Regions from separate parts of the Homo sapiens genome. Here all the other regions are linked to region 1. Evidence: fine-mapped expression QTL. A gene starts in region 1. Each other region holds a variant in brackets. All regions are shown on one strand. Distances are between the middles of the regions. Region 1 holds the start of UBE2F (ubiquitin conjugating enzyme E2 F (putative)). Region 2 overlaps SCLY (selenocysteine lyase). Region 3 has its middle 25 kb from the start of UBE2F-SCLY.

What was found. PIP is the estimated chance that this variant, and not a neighbour inherited with it, causes the effect. A credible set is the group of variants that fine-mapping cannot tell apart.
Region 2: its variant is the best candidate, but not a certain one, in a credible set for the expression of UBE2F in thyroid (GTEx, PIP 0.82).
Region 3: its variant is the best candidate, but not a certain one, in a credible set for the expression of UBE2F in left ventricle (GTEx, PIP 0.50).

The regions. Positions count from the first base shown.
Region 1 is chr2:237,965,488-237,968,150 of GRCh38, forward strand. UBE2F (ubiquitin conjugating enzyme E2 F (putative)) reads left to right here and starts at 1,527. Exons shown (of 10, transcript NM_080678.3): 1 at 1,527-1,645. It overlaps UBE2F-SCLY (UBE2F-SCLY readthrough (NMD candidate)), which reads left to right and starts at 1,458. Exons shown (of 19, transcript NR_037904.1): 1 at 1,458-1,645. RefSeq lists a cis regulatory region at 1-54 and a silencer at 1,571-1,750.
Region 2 is chr2:238,079,414-238,082,076 of GRCh38, forward strand. SCLY (selenocysteine lyase) reads left to right here. Exons shown (of 12, transcript NM_016510.7): 5 at 2,296-2,423; 6 at 2,632-2,663. It overlaps UBE2F-SCLY (UBE2F-SCLY readthrough (NMD candidate)), which reads left to right. Exons shown (of 19, transcript NR_037904.1): 12 at 2,296-2,423; 13 at 2,632-2,663. Among named protein-coding and RNA genes, the nearest start is that of ESPNL, 20 kb to the right of the region's middle. The variant C/T (reference allele first, on the strand shown) is at 1,241.
Region 3 is chr2:237,940,633-237,943,292 of GRCh38, forward strand. No RefSeq gene overlaps it. Among named protein-coding and RNA genes, the nearest start is that of UBE2F-SCLY, 25 kb to the right of the region's middle. RefSeq lists an enhancer at 747-1,246. The variant G/A (reference allele first, on the strand shown) is at 1,185.

The DNA.
Region 1 (2,663 bases):
AACACAAGAAATAACACAAGTTGTGTTCTTTCTTTTTTCTTTTTTTTCTGGAAACAGTCTTGCTGTGTCACCCAGACTGGAGTGCAGTGTCAGCTCACTGCAACCTCCGCCTCCTGGGTTCAAGCAATTCTCCTGCCTCAGCGTTCCAAATAGCTGGGATTACAAGGGCGCACCACCACGCCCGGCTTTTTTGTATTTTTAGTAGAGATGGGGTTTTGCCATGTTGGCCAGGCTGGTCTTGAACTCCTGACCTCAGGTGATCTGTCTGCCTCGGCCTCCCAAAGTGCTGGGATTACAGGCCTGAGCCACTGCGCCCGGCTGAGTTGTGTTCTTGACCAGTTTTCCTGACTCCATTCCCACCGACTCACTTAGAGCCAAAGCCTTTATTATTATTATGGGGACAGGGTCTGCCCTGTCACCCAAGCTGGAGTGCAGTGGTGCGATCACGGCTCACTGCAGCCTCAACCTCCTGGGCTCAGGTGATCCTCCCATCCCAGCCTCCTGAGTAGCTGGGACTACAGGCGCGCGCCACCACGCGGCTAATTTTTTTTTTCTTTTTTTGTAGCGATGGGGTCTTGCCACCATCAGGAGGCTGGTCTTAAACTCTTGGGCTCATGGGATCCTCCCACTTTGGCCTCCCAAAGTGCTAGGATTACAGGCGTGAGCCACCGGGCCCGCCAGCCTCCTTTAGGAAGAAAACCTGATAGTCACTCCACTGTTAGAAACCTCTCAGTGGGGTTTTTCGAAATGAAAGTCTAACTCCTTGTCTCTTTCTGACCGTTTCCATGCTGAACCTCATCTTTCTAATGGCCCACTCCTCCAGGGGCCTGCCTGACGCCCAGGACGGCCCCTCGTCAATCACACAGGACGCTAATGGGCGCGGGATGAATCTGGGCGCCCAAAAGAGGACAAGTTGAAATGGATTTTTAAGGTACTTTAAACACATTTAAGAGAGAAAAGAAGGAATAAAAGGGACATGACAAGAACAGTGGGGCCTGTGGGCGCAGCACACGGTTTGGGGTTGGTCGTGGCTTGCGTGTCTGACCGCCCGGTCTCCCTCACCGCCTGCACTGCAGGCTGCGGGGGCCTGTCCAGTCCTTTGCACTCCAGGTGCGGCGCTGGACAGCGGGAGCTCCAGCCACGGAGGCCGCTCCTTCAGGGAAGGATAGCCCGGGCTCCTCCGTGCCCCTAAACCCTGCAGACCACGAAGTGAACCCGTGTTGGAACCAGGTGCAAAACCCCCAGCCCTCCGGCGCTCGGGCTCCAGAGCCAACTCGGAATCCCCGCCCCTAACGCTACTCGCCAATCAGCGGCGGTTGCGAAATCCGTGCCCGCCCCCTGGCCGCGCCCTCTGCCAATGAGCGAGGTCCGAGAGGCCCGTCGCCCAGCCCAGTCCCGATCGGCGCACGCCGCTGTTCGCGTGTCTGGTTCCAAATAAAGTTTTTCGCGACTTTGAATTTTTTTTTTAAAGCGCCCGCTGCTGTCTCGGCTGCCGCGGGCGAGAGCGGCCGAGTCCCCGCCCCGCCACTTCCGGTCCCGCCGCCGGGAGCCGGTGCGGCTGTGAGGGGCCGCGTCTCGCAGCAGCCGCCCGGACCGGGCATGGTGTTGGGCGCCGGGCCCGCCTCGCCTGTCTCGGGGAGCCCAGGTGAGGAGCGACCGTGCGGCTCTGCGGCGGGGCGAGGTGCGGCCGCCGGTGCACGGGCTGGCCTGCGGGCCGGGCGGAGGGCGCGGGCGGTGGCGGGGCCGCCTCGGGCCCGCCGGGTTCCTCACGCCGGGGGCCTGGCGGGCGCGGGCACCCGGACGCGAGGCCGAGCGGCGTGAATGGGAAGGGGCCGCGGGCCGCGGGCCGCGAGCCGGGGGTCGGAGGCGGCGTCGGCGGCCGGGGCGCTGGCCTCGCCCGGCAGTGAGTGACCGCGGCGGCGGCGGCGGGGGACGGCCCGCGCCGAGCACCTGGTGTGAACCAGGCCCTGGGCCGAGCGTGGCACAGACCTGGCCGCGCTCACGCCCCACTCGCGGGATCGGCTGCCTGCCTTGTACGGAGGAAGCGGGGCGTCCAGCGCCTGGCCAAGGTCACCGGCCCGACGTGGCCGCAGAAACCGGGACTGGACTCCCGATCGGGGCAGGAGTCGCGCTAGGCCGTGAGGAGCGGGGGAGGTGAGGGGAGTGACAACTCGCGCCCGGTCCTCGTACCTGCAGCGGGAAGAGTAAGTATGGACGCTTACCTACAACTGGGGGCGGCCAGGCTAGTTTGGAAAATTTTTACCACAGCAAAGGAGACGAGGAAGGAAGGGCATCTTGGAACAATTAGTGCAGCAGAGTCTTGGTTCCAGACCTAGTTCTGCTGGTGTGTCATCTTGGGTGTGGCCTTCCCCTCCCTGGGCTCAGTTTCCTCATCTGTCACAGGAGAGAATTGGGTCCCCCCACTCTGCATTCCCGACCGCCTGGAAGTGGGGGCAGGATGGGTTGGAATAGCCAGAGAAAGCTTCTTGGAGGAGGAGATGTTGGGATGTAGGTAGGAATCTTCCCCTTAAGGAAGGGGTAGGATTCGTTTGTGAAGGGAAGGAGGGCATTCTAGACCTGGGTATCAGACTGAATAGAAGCTTCTGGAAATGAACAGGGTGTTGTGAAGGAACAAAGAGGAAACTGGCCTGCCTGGTGCAGAG
Region 2 (2,663 bases), 110 kb after region 1:
TGTTTATAGATTTTGCTTGAGTAATCTTCTTAGTTGCCTTTTCACATTATCTTCATTTGTTCCATGGATCTGAATTATCATCTGGTGTCCTTTCCTTAATAGACAATTCTGCTCCCTCCCACCTCCTTTGTGCTATTATGAAATATTGTGTGTTATAGCCCTAACAAAATAATTATATACATGTTATTTTATACAGTTGCTTTTAAATCAGTTAAGAGAAGCAATATACAGTTACACTGCCCTTTTTTTCCTTTACTTTTTTGAGACGGAATCTCTTTTGCTGATTGCGAGATAGTTTCTCTGTCTTTGGCTTTCAACATTTTCATTATCATGTGTCTGGGAGTGAATGTCTTTGTGTTTTATCCCACCCAGAATTCACTGAGCCTCTTAGGTATGTAGATTAGTGTTTTCCATTACATTTGAGATGTTTTCAGCCATTATTTTTCAGAGACATTTTTCTGCCCCTTTCTCTTGCTCCTGCCCTTCTGCTACTCCTGTTTTCCCTATTTGGTGCCTTATGGTGTCCCACATTTCTCTGAGGCTCTGTTTATCTTTCTCATGTTTTTCCTGTCTTATATTTGGATTTCGTAATCTCTGTAAATCTACCTTCATGTTGACTAAATGTATTTTCTGCCAGTTCCAATATACTCTGGAGCCCCTCCAGTGAATTCTTCATATCGGTTGTACTTTCCAACTCCAGGATTTCCTTTTGGTTCTTTTTCATAATTTCTCTCTTGTTTATCTTGAGGACTCTCTATTTGATGAGCCATTGTCATCATACTTTTCTTTATCTCTTTAAGTACAGTCATAGGCAGTTTTTATCACTTGCCTTTTTTCCTGCTTTTCCACACACTGAAGATACCAGTTAGAATTTTTTTAGTTTTCCTGTTCCTGGGATTGCTTCTATGTGATCTAGAATCAGTCATTTACCTGTTCATCCTGGTTTTTCCTCAGGCTTGGGGATCCTGGATTGTTCCTGTGGATGGATGAAGCATTTCGTTGTTTGATGTAGGGGCTAGGGATGGCTCATCTCCAGTTCTCAATGCGTTTCCCCAGGAGGTGTCTCCCAGGAAAGGAAGGCCCACGGTGGGCTCTGCATAAGGTGGTGGCAGCAGAGCCCGGCAAGCCGGGTGGACCCCCCCAACTTTTCTCGTGACTTCCCTGGACGGAGCTGCCTTTGCTTTGCTCCTCTGAGTTCCCTAGCAGATGCCTCAAGCTCCTCCCCCTTTTCTAGATCCTT[C/T]CCCCATCCTGGGAGCCCACCTTGTGCCCGCCCTCTCTGGGCGTGTGGTGCTGTCTCAGTCTGAGGTCAGCACCTCTGCCGCTGACTTGGTGTACGGGAGCAGGGCGTGTTCGGACATTGGGAAGCTGACCTCTGCCGGCCTCGGTAGCTGGCCCGTGCCCTGCGCTTCCCGCTGTCCACCCTGAACTTGGGTGGCCACTGGATACTTTCAGATTGGCCTTTAAGTGTTCTTTTCCCTGTTAATCTAATGCCATCATCTTGCTACATTTTAGGGACTCCTCAAAATTCCTAGTCCACATACCCCCTCCCACCCCCTTTTATTTGAGACAGTGTGTTACTGTGTCACCCAGGCTGGAGTGCAGTGGTGTGATCTCCCTATGTTGCCCAGGCTGGTCTTGAACCCCTGGGCTCAAGCAGTCCACCCACCTCGGCCTTCCAAAGTGAGCCACTGCGCCTGGCCAGATACCCTTTGTTGGTGTTGTTTTGATTTGATTCTTAGTCGGAGAAGTAGCTGTTTTCTCTTTCATTTCAGTAGGATCCTGAGTGGGCAGTGGATACATTTGTTTTTCACCATTTTAAACTCAAAGCACTAAAGCTAAACAATGTAGTCCCCTCTGCTCATTTTCCATCTGCAGTAGTGAGACTCTCAGTGCCCGGGGCAGTCAGCGCCTGGCGCGTAGGAGCGGCTTCATCAGCACTGGCTCGGTGCCAAATGCATGGCAGTGAAGTGCTGTGCACTAGGACCCTCCCCAAAAGCAAGAGCCTGCATCCCTGTTGCCTCTTCCTCTTCCGTCTCCGTAGAAGCAGAAAGGCACACAGCTTCCACGACACAGATTCACTGACTGCAGCCGCGTTAAAGACACGTTCACACTGAAGCACCTGACAGTGACTCTGGGCCAGTGATGATGGGCGGCTTATATTCTTCTTTATAGTCTTCTGAACTTGGACAACAATTTACTTTTATAGTTGTAGAAAACTGTTAAGCTCTGTTGGAACGCAGTTTTGAGAGGAATCAATTTGTGCAGCTCAGTTCGGTACTCATGTTTGTTTCCCAGCGGTCACCTTTGTCCCGGTGTCCAAGGTGAGCGGGCAGGCAGAGGTGGACGACATCCTCGCGGCAGTCCGCCCGACCACACGCCTCGTGACCATCATGCTGGCCAACAATGAGACTGGCATTGTCATGGTGAGTCGGCCTTTGTTTCTCTTTAAGGAGAGCTCATGGGGAAGAACAGCAGCTTAGACTCATGGCGTTTCAGGTTTCCCAGCTCTGGCCTCTCCCGTTTCTCTGTTCACTTTGATAACATTTGGCCTGCGCTCACTACTCCTGATTTCTGTCATTCAGTTTTCATCAGATCGGAGCAACATACTCAACTGTTTCCTTTCCCCGTCAGCCTGTCCCTGAAATCAGTCAGCGCATTAAAGC
Region 3 (2,660 bases), 25 kb before region 1:
TCTGTGCGGCATGTCATTGTACTGAAGAGTGTAGGCCATTGGGACACAGTGGTATTCATGCATGTAAACATATCTTAACATAGAAAAGTTCAGTTAAAAACATGGTATTTGCTTCATAGCAGTCCAGTCCATGCAAACCTACCCCCAAAGTCCAAGGAAGCTGAGGGCTAAAGAAGAGGCTGACAAATCCAGCTCCTCAGAAAGAAGCATTTAATAAAGACTTATGAAGAGAAGCCATGTCTCAGGTAGCCAAAAGTTGGTGGACCCCCACACCATTCCTACCATAGGGGAAGGAACAGGTAGGACAAGTGAAGCTGATCCCTAGGGAAGGGCAAGAATGCTATGTGAATCTGCCTAAGGGCAGGATTTATGGCCAAGGTCATTTTGACCCAAGGCCAGGGTTTATGGTAATAGTAGATAAAATAGAAATCTTAGAGGCCTCCCTGAACAGGGGTTAATGAGAAGTCACCATAGTGGATTAGAGTCCAAGATGGAATTGCTTTAGCCTCCACAGTCTTATAATCTTATGAGACCACCATCAAATATATCATCCATCATTGACCCAAACATTGTCATGTGGTTCATGACTCTATTTTTTTACCCTGCTAGCTGAAAGGGCCTTTAAAAACCAATACCCTGAGCTGGGAATGGTGCATGAGTCTGTAATCCTAGCTACCTGAGAGGCTGAAGTCAGAGGATCACTTGAGTCCAGGAATTCAAGACCAGCCTGGGCAACATAAAAAGACCCCCATCTCAAACACACACACACACACACACACACACATATGCACACACACACATGCACACACACGTGCACACACACACATGCACACACACACACACACAAACACCTTAGTAGCAATAAGCACACTGAGCACTCAAATACTTGTTTTGAACACCATTTCCAATTAAAGGAAGAATTTCAATTATTGTTTTTCTCAACTGTTATCTATTGCCTCGGGCAGCAACAACTAAAGCCTTTGGCTATAAGTGTTTTCCACAAACACTCCCTGCGTAAGTCTTCAACACTGGGAAAGTTCTGGGTCAAAAAAAAATAAAGTGTTTTGAGCTGGTCTTCCAGGGAAGACAGGTCAAATAATGACAGTTCTTTGAGAATGAGGTCTGTTCTGCTCTCTCTGGTGCTGGGGATGTGTGCTGTTACCTGTATGGAAATAAGGAGAGAA[G/A]CAAAGGCTATTTATCTACTCAGAGCTTGCTATGACAAGGGAGGAAGCCACTCTCCTGTGTTTCAGCAGACACTCAAAAGCAGGCAGGGGAGTGGGGAAGCTTCGTGCTGGAGAAAAGGGAAGGCTCAGGTGTGTGCAGATTGGAGGCTGTTGACCTAGGGAAGCTGGAGGGCTCGCTAGAAATGGGGCTTCTATATGATTGCTTAGGGGAGCAAATTGACTTTCTCTGGTTGGTCCTCAGCTGGAAGCAGGGACAAAAATTAGGAAAGTGTCTAGTTATTAACCAGTCAACTGGCTGCGTGGGGCCAATTGTCACAGAAGTAATTGTTTTTACTTTGTGGATTGTTTCTAGAGAGAGCAATTGGACCTCCAACAAGTCTGACTTGTAGCATGCTGGCTTCCTGAGTTGTTATGTGCAGATAAGGGTTTGGCTTCCTTCCTGGGCTTGTTGTTACCGGTTGTGGGTGAGAGTTCTGTTTGTGTATATGGCCTGGCCATTGTCTGTATATTTGGTCTCTCTCTTTTTTTTTGAGATGGAGTCTCACTCTGTCACCCAGGCTGGAGTGCGGTGGCGTGATAGCTCACTGCAACCTCCACCTCCCAGGTTCAAGCAATTCTTGTGCCTCAGCCTCCTGATTAGCTGGGATTACAGGCACACGCCATCAGGCTAACTTTTGTATTTTTAGTAGAGACGGGATTTCACCACGTTGGCCAGGATGGTCTCAAACTCCTGACCTCAGATGATCCACCCATGTCGAACTTCCAAAGTGCTGGGATTACAGGCGTGAGCCACTGCACCTAAACTGGCCTCTCATTTTCAAGTTTCCTGCTTTGCTGGGGAGCCAGGGAGGGGAATAGAGTAAGTTAACTGCCACAAAGCCTGCTGCTCTTACAGAGACTCCAGCCCTTCCTTCAGCTCTTCCTCTTATCAAGTGCTTCCTGACTTCTTACAAGTCTTTGTTTAATTTCCAGAGTTCCAAGAAATTAACTCCAGCAGTTTGGGCCAATGTTTTGTTGCTTCTTAGAATGCACAATAATTTCAGGGTTCCTTATTGTATTTTCACTAACATCACTTGCCATATTAATTTTTTTCCTTTTATTATATTAGAAACGGGGGTGTCTCACTATATTGCCCAGGCTGGTCTCGAACGCCTGAGCTCAAGTGATCCTCCTGCCTCGGCCTCCCAAAGTGCTGGCATTGTAGGCATGAGCCACCACACCTGGCTATAAGTAGATTGTTCTTCAGAGGTTATTTTCAGCTGACTTTTGGTTTCCTATCTAATTTTGTAATGGTGGGTAATGAAGCCCCTCTGAACCAAGAAGTTTGTATGCAGCTCATTCTTGTCTTCTGTGATTTTCTTTTCTCTCTCTCTCTGTCTTTCTTAAGTATAATTAGAGAGTTTATTTGGGCCAAATTTGAGGACTGCAACCCAGGAGACATATAGTCAAGTTACCCTGAATATATGTTCCCCTCTT